Linked DNA regions of Homo sapiens: region 1 is linked to region 2. A link means that fine-mapping ties the variant in region 2 to the expression of a gene that starts in the linked region. Tissue or cell type: sun-exposed skin. Region 2 holds a variant in brackets; the other region holds the start of a gene. All regions are shown on one strand. Distances are from middle to middle. Region 1 holds the start of WNT16 (Wnt family member 16). Region 2 has its middle 27 kb from the start of WNT16.

Evidence for each region. PIP is the estimated chance that this variant, and not a neighbour inherited with it, causes the effect.
Region 1: it holds the start of WNT16, and the variant in region 2 is fine-mapped to the expression of WNT16 in sun-exposed skin (GTEx, PIP above 0.99). The same link has a PIP of 0.9 or more in unexposed skin.

The regions. Positions count from the first base shown.
Region 1 is chr7:121,326,982-121,331,981 of GRCh38, reverse strand. WNT16 (Wnt family member 16) reads right to left here and starts at 2,982. Exons shown (of 4, transcript NM_057168.2): 1 at 2,595-2,982; 2 at 2,165-2,415; 3 at 18-304. The coding sequence starts at 2,689.
Region 2 is chr7:121,299,552-121,305,083 of GRCh38, reverse strand. No RefSeq gene overlaps it. Among named protein-coding and RNA genes, the nearest start is that of WNT16, 27 kb to the left of the region's middle. RefSeq lists an enhancer at 2,682-2,751. The variant C/T (reference allele first, on the strand shown) is at 3,095.

The sequences.
Region 1 (5,000 bases), 27 kb before region 2:
CATTTTCTAATACATACCTGCCTTCCAGCTTCATTGTTATGTAGGTTCATTGCTAATAGTACTTTGTTTTCTTTGCCCGTGGTGTTTCCGATGGGGAAATCTAGGAACTTTCTGCTGAACCACATGCCATACTGGACATCATCGGAGCAGCCCCCCCAGTGCCAGCCTTCACTTGCTGAGCCGCCGTTCTGCAAGGTGGTGTCACAGGAACACTCTGTCATGTTGCCTGCACTGCATGACCTGGTCACAGAATGCACCAGGCCTGCAGCCATCACAGCATAAATAAATGCTGTCTCTTTGGTGCCTAGAAAAAATATAAATTGCTAAATTAGAGAACCAGGCAACTTCTGTTTATGTTCAGAAGAAAGCCTCCTACTCATGATCTTACTGGACAAGTAATTTTTCAGTTGCTTACAATGGATGCGTTAACGAGTACATATTTAGAAAGGAAGATTTGCTCTTGTTCTAGTCTCTTAAAAAGCAACATTAATTTTCAGTATTCCACTTGAAGAGATTGTCATATACTGTATGGTCATACATTGTCCCTTTACCTTAAAATCATCTCTTTATTTTTTAAATTTGAAATGTATGTTTGCACCCAGTTCAGTGCACAGTTGACAGTCATAGCTCAGTAATACATGCTGAATTAAAAATTCTTTGCATAGATACTGTAAACGGTAATACAACACCCAAAGAACACTAGATTGCTTTTCTTTTGAAATTTAAAATGTGCTCTCACAGAACACAAGCTGAACATTTTGGTGTGATTTTTGTTTGCATAAATAATACGTGTCAGAATGAAAATTAAAATTAAGGAAAGACCAAAGCAATTAGTAAACGGTACCGTATATTTTCACATTAAAGATTAGTCTCACATTAACATGAAACAGTTAAACATTTTATATAGTATTAGCTACTCCTCTTACAGTCTTAAAGGCAATGAAAGGTAAGATAATTAAAATGTCACTAGCAAAAACATAATTCTATTAAAAATATTGAATATTGAAAATTATGCATTTAGCACACCTGCAGTAGAGTTTGAGCTAAAATCTTTGAAAATTAAAGTCCATTAAAACATTAATAACATGGACTAGAAGGGAATCAGCAGGCGACTTTTTTTTTTTCTTTCCAGATGTTTAGTTTGGAGTAGAAACAGTTTCATGCCCGCTGTCCAATAAACCTTTTCAACAGCTGATGCATTTCAGCAACTGTGAAAAACACATCTATTTTTTTTCTTTCTGTCTCTTTTTTTTTTTTTTTTTTTTTTCTCTCTACGGGGACCAGGGCTCCTTCGGAAGGGCGTGCCGGCCAGAACGCCGCGGGGGAGGTGCGCGGCTCGGCGGGGGTGCGCGCAGGGACTGCGTGGACAAGGGTCAAAGGCGGAGGGGGAACGGAAATGAACATGAAAAACGACAGCGCATCCTTCAGCGCCCCAGTCCTAACATTCTTTGGATCTGTTGATATTCCAGGAACAATCCTGGCTCCCTGTACCTTTATCCTTACCAAGTCACTACGCACGTGGAAGTGGAACTTTGTTTTCCTGCAGCTTCCCGCGCCGCGGGAGTGCGCCGAGGAGGGAAAGATAGAAAAGCCAAAGAAACGAGAAGCGCACAAGTGGTCCTGCTCAGGTTAGCCGCACGTTGGGTGGTCGCGGACAGTCGCTTTAAAAGTCACCATTATTCTGTCAACTCGGTGCTCCTAGGAGCCAATAAAGGTGGGGCTTCGCTGCAATTAGCCACTTGTCCGGGGTTTGGTGCGCAGCGGAGTTGGTTAAATCAAAGCAGATGCGGCAGCCGCATTCCCCGCTGCCGACATCATGTTTCTCCAGCTGGTCACCCACGTAGGGGGGCGCTACGGGGTCCGAGGGGGTCGGCGGGGTAGGAGAATTAGAGTTTTTTTTCCAACTCTGGCGGGGCACCGCAGGAAAGAGGAAGAGCTCCAGCCCCTAGAGCTCCGCTCTGGAACTGGGGAGTCACCTCCCTCCAGGCTCGCACCTGCTCCCCAGGTCTGGCCTTTGTAGCTCTCAATCCCCGTGCACTAAAGGGCTTCTTCTGGAACTTAGAGAGCTACAGGACCACGTAGCACTATTTACTTTATTTGCAGGAACCGGTGGAGGAGTTGTCGCCTTCCGTCCCCCACCAACCCCTAAGGACCCAGGACTCACCGCTGCTCAGCTCGTAGCCAAAGAGGGGGCTGGCGCCCATCGGGGCGGTAGTGGCGGCGGCGGTGATCATGCAGTTCCATCTCTCGTGTCTGAACTGGCTCCCGCACTCCTGAATGCCCAGCCGGGCGCCCTCTCGGATGCTCGGCAGCAGGTACGGTTTCCTCTTGCACAGCTCCTTCTGGCGGCTGTTCAGCGGCAAATTGGCGCAGCCCAGCTTCTCTGGAACCCCGAAGGAGGCAATGCCCAACCACCTGTAAGACACGGCCGCCCGTAGCGTTAAGCCGCTCCCCAATTCCAGATGTTTTCCGAAAAATTAGGTCACTCGTCTAAGGGTCCCCGCCCTTCTCCCCCAGCCTCAGTTGAAAGTTCCCTAGGATTGGGCACCCCTTTTGCCACCTACCCGATGCTTCCCTGCCACCTCCATACTCACATCCAGTTTCCTTGGGCTCCGTAGGGGAACAGCACGAGCAGGGCTGCCCACAGCGCGCACAAGCGGGCCAGTCCCAGGAGCGCCGCCCTGTCCATCGCCCCCGCATGGAGTCCCCCAGCCCAGCCGCTCCTCTTTTGCACCCCCTCCCCAGAGGCCCTTCGGGCCGCAGGTCAGTTGTCCAGCACCAAGTTATCCCTCGCCCTCTTCCTCCTTGCATACAACATTAAAAGGCCAGCAGTGATAGGGACTCTCAGCAGCTTCCCCCTCGTTTGCAGGGAGCTGTAGGAGAGATGGAGAGAGCAGCCTGGGGATCTCCTCCTGCGCAGGGGTGGAGATGTGCAGGAGATGCGGGAGCGCCCCTCGCATTCCTAGGTGAGAAACTTCTGTTGATGTATCCGCGTCTCCATCGCCCCCGGCCTCTCCTCCCATCTCCTCCCCCTGGCCGCGCCTGGAGCCTGATTGGCTGAGCAGCGGCCCCGCATCTCATCATCTCGGGACCTCAGGCTCTTATTGGTGGAGAGCGGCTCCGCGGGGGGCGCTCCGGGCACTGGCCTCAGGGACAGCGTGTCCAGACCTGGGTGTGTCATGACCTTTCCTGCTGTCACAGTCTCCTTAGAACGGGTCGTTGTGGGGTTGATTCAACCCGAAGACTAACAGGACGCTCTGTCTTAGCAACCTTGGGGGAAAGCGTGGGTTTGATGAGTCCCACCCATCCCACCAACATCTGGGTTACCCTCTGGGTGTAGTGGCTGGAAAATGTCACTGACCTTTTTTTCTTCTCCTTCACCTCACAGGAGAATAATCTTTTTGAGTCAGAGTTGGTACCGAACAAATTAACCTTCCAGTCCCCTGCTTGAGGTCCCACTGTCAGGAGACTTTAGAGAGTGGGTGAAGTGCTGTCAGGCTTACAATCACTGTCATTTATGTATGCATTTATTTTGAGCGAAAGAGAAGATTCCAGTCTAGCATCTCATCTGCCATATTTCAATCGTGCTCTGTGATTTCCTTTTCCCTATTTGTCTTATTTCCTGCAGTCCCTGAGAACGCTGTAAGTCCCCTGCAGAAGATGGGGACAAAGAAAGTGAGAGGTTTCTGGAGAGTTCTAGAGTACATGAGAGATGTGCTCTGATCTTTTTCTCCAGTCCTACCTTACGATTCTCATGGTGGGAGGGTCCCTGCCCTTCTCCCCCAACCTCAGTTGAAAGTTCGCTAGGATTGGGCACCCCTTTGCCACCTACCCGATGCGTCCCTGCAGGACAGGGCTACACATGGAAGACACATTTTTAAAAACGTACTTATTAAATACCTGCTGTGTGCCTAGTCCTGTGGGAATTTATAAAGACAAGCTCTCTTCCCACAACTGTACAAATAAACCATACACAAGTGTAAAAGAAAATACGTTTAGATGATCAGTAAGAGAGATTAAAGAATCTAGCAGGGTACTCCCTGGAGCCGAAGATAGTTCAGAAGCAGGAAGTGTTCCAGTTACTGGCAGATTTGGAAGGTTAGTTAATCAGTGTTTTGTAGGATGGAAGGTCTCCGAGAGTTATCTGAAGGCAAGTGCAACGTGTTTAGCTGTGGTATTGGGAAAGCCTGCCTCACCTAATTAGACACAAGAAATGTTTCTAAGAAGCATTATCTGTCCTTAGAGATCTTTTGAAGTGTTAATACATTCCCATGGTGGACGTATCAGCTCAGTGGGTACCCAAAGCCAAAATTACTTAAATAAAGGATTTGGGGCCAGGTGCAGTGGCTCACACCTGTAATCCCAGCACTTTTGGAGGCCAAGATGGGCGGATCACCAGAGGTCAGGAGTTCAAGACCAGCATGGCCAACATGGTGAAACCCTGTCCCTGCTAAAAATACAAAATTATTTGGGTGTGGTGGTGCATGCCTGTAATCCCAGCTACTCGGGAGGCTAAGACAGGAGAATTGCTTGAACCTAGGAGGTGGAGGTTGCAGTGAGTTGAGATAGCGCCACTGCACTCCAGCCTATGGCACACAGTGAGACTCCGACTCAAAAAAAAAAAAAAAAAAAGGATTAGATAGCATTAGCTGCTTATCTCCTATATCAATCAGTGAGCAATAAAAGCTCACTGAAATTTTCATCCTATCCCATTCACTCCCTTATCCAACAAATGTTTATTGAGTGTACACTATGTACCAGGTTCTAAAGCCACATTTTAAAGAGTCGAGGAGTCAAGTTGATGATAGGATGTAGATACTGATCCAGAAATATTTTGGCTAACGGCTAGTGGCCTCTCTGAAAGTCAGAGCCTTCATCCAAGCTCACTTTATTCTGTGAGCTTCTCCAAGAGGGACAATGGCGGATTCATTGCTGTACCCCTGCCATTGGGCCTAGTACATAAGATCCTGTTTTTGAACAAAATTTATTGAGTGAATTAA
Region 2 (5,532 bases):
GCCAGCTATTGGTAGAAAAACAATGTGATTAAATTCACTCATATCGTAAATGTCTAATAGCCCCAACCCTCCCAAAGATATTAGCATCTTAAGAGAGCCTGGAGGTTAATTTAAGTGATTTCACTAATTGAAAGGATTTCAAACAGTAGAATGCAGTAAAATAAAGAATTTTGGACACAGTAGGGAGTCATCTGGTAACAAAGCAAGAAAGCTTTTCATTTGTTCTGAATACCAGACACAGCTTTGTACAAAAGTATGAGTATCAATCTTATGCCTTGCAGTCCTCTTTTTACTTCCCAGATTCATATTTCAAAATCACATATAATGCTACTTGCAAAATTAAATTGCTGAAGAATATATCTACTGTCTTGACTTAGGAAAAAACATGCAGAGAAATCTTTTAGCTACTGCACTGTTGCAAAAAAAATATAGAATTGGTGAGTGTAAAAGAAAAAAGTACCTATCTGAAACTCACTAGAAACAGATATCACCCTACCTCTACTTTTCAGTGAAAATGTGATCTCTCTACCCATAGCACTTCCAGTTCCATAATTAAATTCAGTTGCATTGTTAATGTACTGTTGACATTAACTTGTATCTCATATACACAAGACTGGGAATACACACATGCTAACTTGAAACAGCTGTTTGCAAAATTATTACAATATGGCATACTTCTTTTAACCATTATGTCTTCTATTTAAACATGATTTGCATCTGTAAGCGCTTATCATATACAAAATTAAGGGAAGATTTATAATGTAAAAATGAATTTTGATGTTGCATTAATATTGCATTTGGTGATAGTATGGTAGAAAAAGAAAGCAAGTAGAAATATTTGTATGGATCAGAAGCCATGCCCATTGGTCTATATGCTGGAAGGGCAGGGCCTGCATGAATATCTTCCCATATACTTTAGGCTCCAATAACTCACATCTCTAAATGGGGCAATCAGTATAGCTTTTTTCCTGGCTCCTCAATTTTTGGTGTCAAAATAGCAGACTCTTCCAGATAAGTTATGTGATACTCCCTGCTTCTTTTAATAGTCTCATTTCTGGCTAGCCGATACCTGAAATTCCACAACTAGAAATGTCTTACTTTGTCCTCTCTTAAAACTTCAGTTATGAGGGCTTGAGATATGGTTCATTTAGACATGGGCATAACTTCATCAAATCCTTTCCAGTTTTGCTAGGGGCAGGGTGGAAAGAACATCTGCTTCTTCTGAGATGAGCGAGGTATAGGGGTACAGCAAAGAGCAGGCCTGAAGCACCATAGCCCTGTGCAAACTGCAAGCCTCAGGGCCCAGCACCGGGTGTCAGCAGCTCCCTGAACTTCTAGCAGCCTCCCCATTGAGTCCAGGAGGACAACTTCCACATGTACCTGACATCTTCCCCAACTACTTCTTTCGTACTCTACCTCAATCCCAACTGTAAATATACTAAAAACCACTGAATTTTATGCTTTAAATGAGTAAACTTCATGGTAGGTAAATTGTATCTCAATAAAACAGTTACAAATAATACATATAAACAATGGGAACAAACATTTGGTACTTGCTAAACAGGGTATCAGGAAATGATGATATTAATACTATTTCTAACATAGTGCGTTGTCAAAGCCTTTTAGATAACTTCTATTTCGAGCACAATTTTTAACTCCAGAAAATGCTAGAGTTTGTTAGTGCATTTGTTTGTGTGTTTTTTTTTTTTTTATAAAAATTCATGAGTGTCTTTCCTGTGCCAGGTAATTTGTTTCTAAACTGAGAGTGCAAAGATTAAAACATAATAATGCTAAGTGAAGGAAAGCAGCCAAAAAGACCACATATTGTGTGATCTTATTTATATGAAACATCCAAGGTAGGCAAATCCATAGAAACAAAAAGCAGATTGGTGGTCACTGAAGTCTGAGGAGTGGAGGTGGGGAAAGTTGAAGAGTGACTGCTATGTTTCTTTTTGGGATGATAAAAAAGTTCTAAAGTTAGATTATCTTGATGACTGCAGAACTGTAAATATACCAAAAACTACTTAATTTTACACTTTAAATGAGTGAACTTCATGTAGGTAAATTTTATCTCAATAAAACAGTTAAAAATTTTGCATATCCACAATCAAACAAACAACTCAGTCCCTTCCGCATGGAGTTTACATTCTAGGGAGGACAAACTTAAACAGACAAAGAGAAAATGGCTGGGTTGGGGTAAACAGGGAACGCTAAAGGAATGCAAAGAAAGAATACTTTGATCAGTGTATGAGGAATCAGAGAAAGATTCCTAGAGGAGATGGCATCTGAGCTAAGAAGTAGTGAACAGAGAAAAGAATGAGAGAGAGCAATGTTTGCTGAGCCCCTACTCTACATTAGAGATTGGATAGTAGAAAGATGAATGGCTCAAGGTAATCAAATAGATGATTGTAGGTAATTATACCGTGAAAATGCAATAATGGAGGTGGACACAGAAACCATCTAAGTCAAAAAGGGGAAACGAAAATGGGTGGAGGCCAACTAGAAATTCGATTTGGAGGAAGAAAGTTATGAGCTGTAGAACTGTGATCGTGCTGGGTGTCCTCCACCCAGCGGAACCTCTGCCACAGTTTACAGGACTTAGTTATGCTGCCGCATAACTAAGGGTTATGACTTACCCCTCAGCCATACTGAGGGTCATACTGAGTCATACTGAGGGATATGACTTACCTCTCAGCCACCCATCTCAGCATTTGCCAGTGAGAAGGCCCTGTGAGATCTGAGGGCAGAGGCACGGCATGTGGCCAGAGTCCCTACTGAGAGTGATTCCCATAAGTGAACTTTACTGATCCATTTACTTTCATCAGGGTACAATGTTGCCCTGCTCTCTTTCTTTCCCCGAGTTCTCTGTAGTTTTAAAGTTTAAACTATAGTTTATCGTTCTCTCTAGTTTTGGAGCCCTCGTGACTCCACAGTCCAACATTTCCTAGTATCTTCTTATTTTGGTGATTTCTGGCAGTTGGGTTACTTGTCACCTCTTAAGAAAAGCATCTAGCAAACATCTCCCCTAACACGTCCCTCCCTGCTCTGTCACTGCCTGGCGGAGGCCTCGAAGTGCATTCCCCACATGTTCAGA[C/T]GAGCACTTGGTAAAGGCATCCAGAGATATAGAACCTGTTATACTAAAGGTTTTACATACTGCTATAAATAAAAAATAAAAGGAATGTTTTAAAGGAACTAATTCGATGGATATAAGATTATTTGATACTGCTCCATTATCTATTTCATTGTGTGTGTATGTGTGTGTGCATACATTTTATCTATACATACACACACACACACACACACGTATTTATACAGTATGGATGAGTTTTTATTTGAAAATAATCCAGAATTCCTGTTTTCAAGTCTTTTATTTGACACACACTCTGCCCAGACACAAACCAGGGAAGGTTTGGCTTTGACCCAACAGTTTTGACTTTCTTGTCTGCAGAGGCAGCATAACAAGTCCATGATCAGTGGTGAAGGGAAGGCATTTATTTTCACTGTATTTGACAAGCATCCCTCCCAGGGATGCTTCCATTGGAAGAGAAATCGACTTCAAGAAGCTCAGTACTTCAAAGACTTATGATGACCCCAGGAAAGAGAAAAACACCATGTAAGCCAATCACCCACTTTGTGATTGTCCATTCTTCTGGGAAATAAGAATCTGAGATGCAATGTCTGTATCAGCCTCATCTCAGAATCCATAAATAATTCACAGAAGGTATCAATTTATTTATAGGATAGGTGGCCAAGAGAGACTTCCGGCTGTTTACCAATAGCATGGCTCTGGAAACTCCATCCTATTGAAATAATTCCTGTTCTTGGCAGGAGTAACTTGAGCTAAGGGTGTATCCACACCCTTTTAAAAACATGCCAGTGATTTTGCATAACTAATATGAACATTGAAATGGGTATTCTATAGAGGCAAGTGTGAACAGAGATCAGGTTTTCCCCTGTGGGTATGCACATGTAGTGGAAACTGATGGACCCAAATTTGTGCCATTTGATGACTAAACTCATTCTGGGCTGCAAAGGCATTGTTTCAGTTTTCTCTCATAATATTTTTAATTCAGACCAAATTTTATCTTATAAGTAGAAGAAGTAGTTGCAAATAATTCCATGCCCTGCCAATGACATAGGCACTGATTTTTAACAAAAGGCTCATAAACTCTTTTTATGATACTGTAAAACTGGAGAGCCTGTGCCCATTAAAACATAAGCTTCATGTTACATGTAATTAAGGCAAGAAGGAGAACATAAAAATGTAAGCTTTAAAATGTATCTTGTATTACATATTAAATGCACACAGAAAAATACTGCATAAGTTCCATTTCAAAGGCAAAGGTAAGGACAAGCAGGAATGATCACAGTAGATGAGTAAGCCCTTCGGTGAAAAAATCAATTTAGTAAAAAATGGGTTTCTATTTCAAGTTCTTGAGGATATACTATATTGATGATTAGAGCACATTTTCTATTTTTCCTGATTTTTAACTCAGAAAATATCATTAGAGTCACATTCACTTGCTATTTGGTTAATCTAGGTTATAATTTTTGGTCCACTAAAGACTTAAAATTATTATTTCCTTTTTCTTTGGAAATTGGACCCTCCAATGTGATTCATACTAAGAAGAGGTTGAAGAGATGTCCAAGAGCTGTCAAAGGTAGCTAGAAGGTGCTCTTATGTATCCATCCCCAAACCCAGTGGAGAAGAGCTTCCGCTGGTGTGAAGGCCTATGCTGTAGCTTCCTTTCAATCCTGCACAGACCATGATGTACCTCATGGACTATCCTCGGCTGCACTGCATTCAGTGTTGGCATTTTGCACTCTTATTTCTGTGTATTTATTGAAAACGGACACAAGAATTCTGAACCCCAGATATCCAGCTATTAACGTAAAAAAGATCTACTGGAAACCAAACAACCTCTTATACCTAAGTGGAGATTAGTGGATACATGGTTATATTACAAGTTACAACATATGGTTGTTTCATTTTAGTGTCCTTAAATTTTTTTCTAATATTCAAATTTATGATTTAATTTTAAAGGCATACCAATTATAGACCAAATAAAAATTTGAGACTGGAAAGAAAATTAAAATGTTTACCTGGATGGCATACACTGAGATTTCAATCTGCATATTTTGAACAGGTTTTATTATAAAAAAGAAAGTGGAAATACAATTGAACAAAATATATAAATAAATTGCATACCATCATTAAACTGTGTAGCGTAGCCCCAAAAGCTACATCAAATAGCTGCATTTCACCAGCCAACCATAAAATAAGTCACTATATAGTTGAGAATCAATTGGATACATTTTGTATTTATGAAACCATGTTACTTCTGAATTCTTATGTACCAATAATCAATTGTAAATATTTTGCTTTTAAAACATATCTAAACATTTTAATGGATTTCATAGGAATTACTCTTTCATATTATACAAAGTATATTTTTTTATTTTATATGATAAAATGAATCATGTGATGCTACACATAAATCACCTTAAGAAGACATCTTGGTTAGAGATATT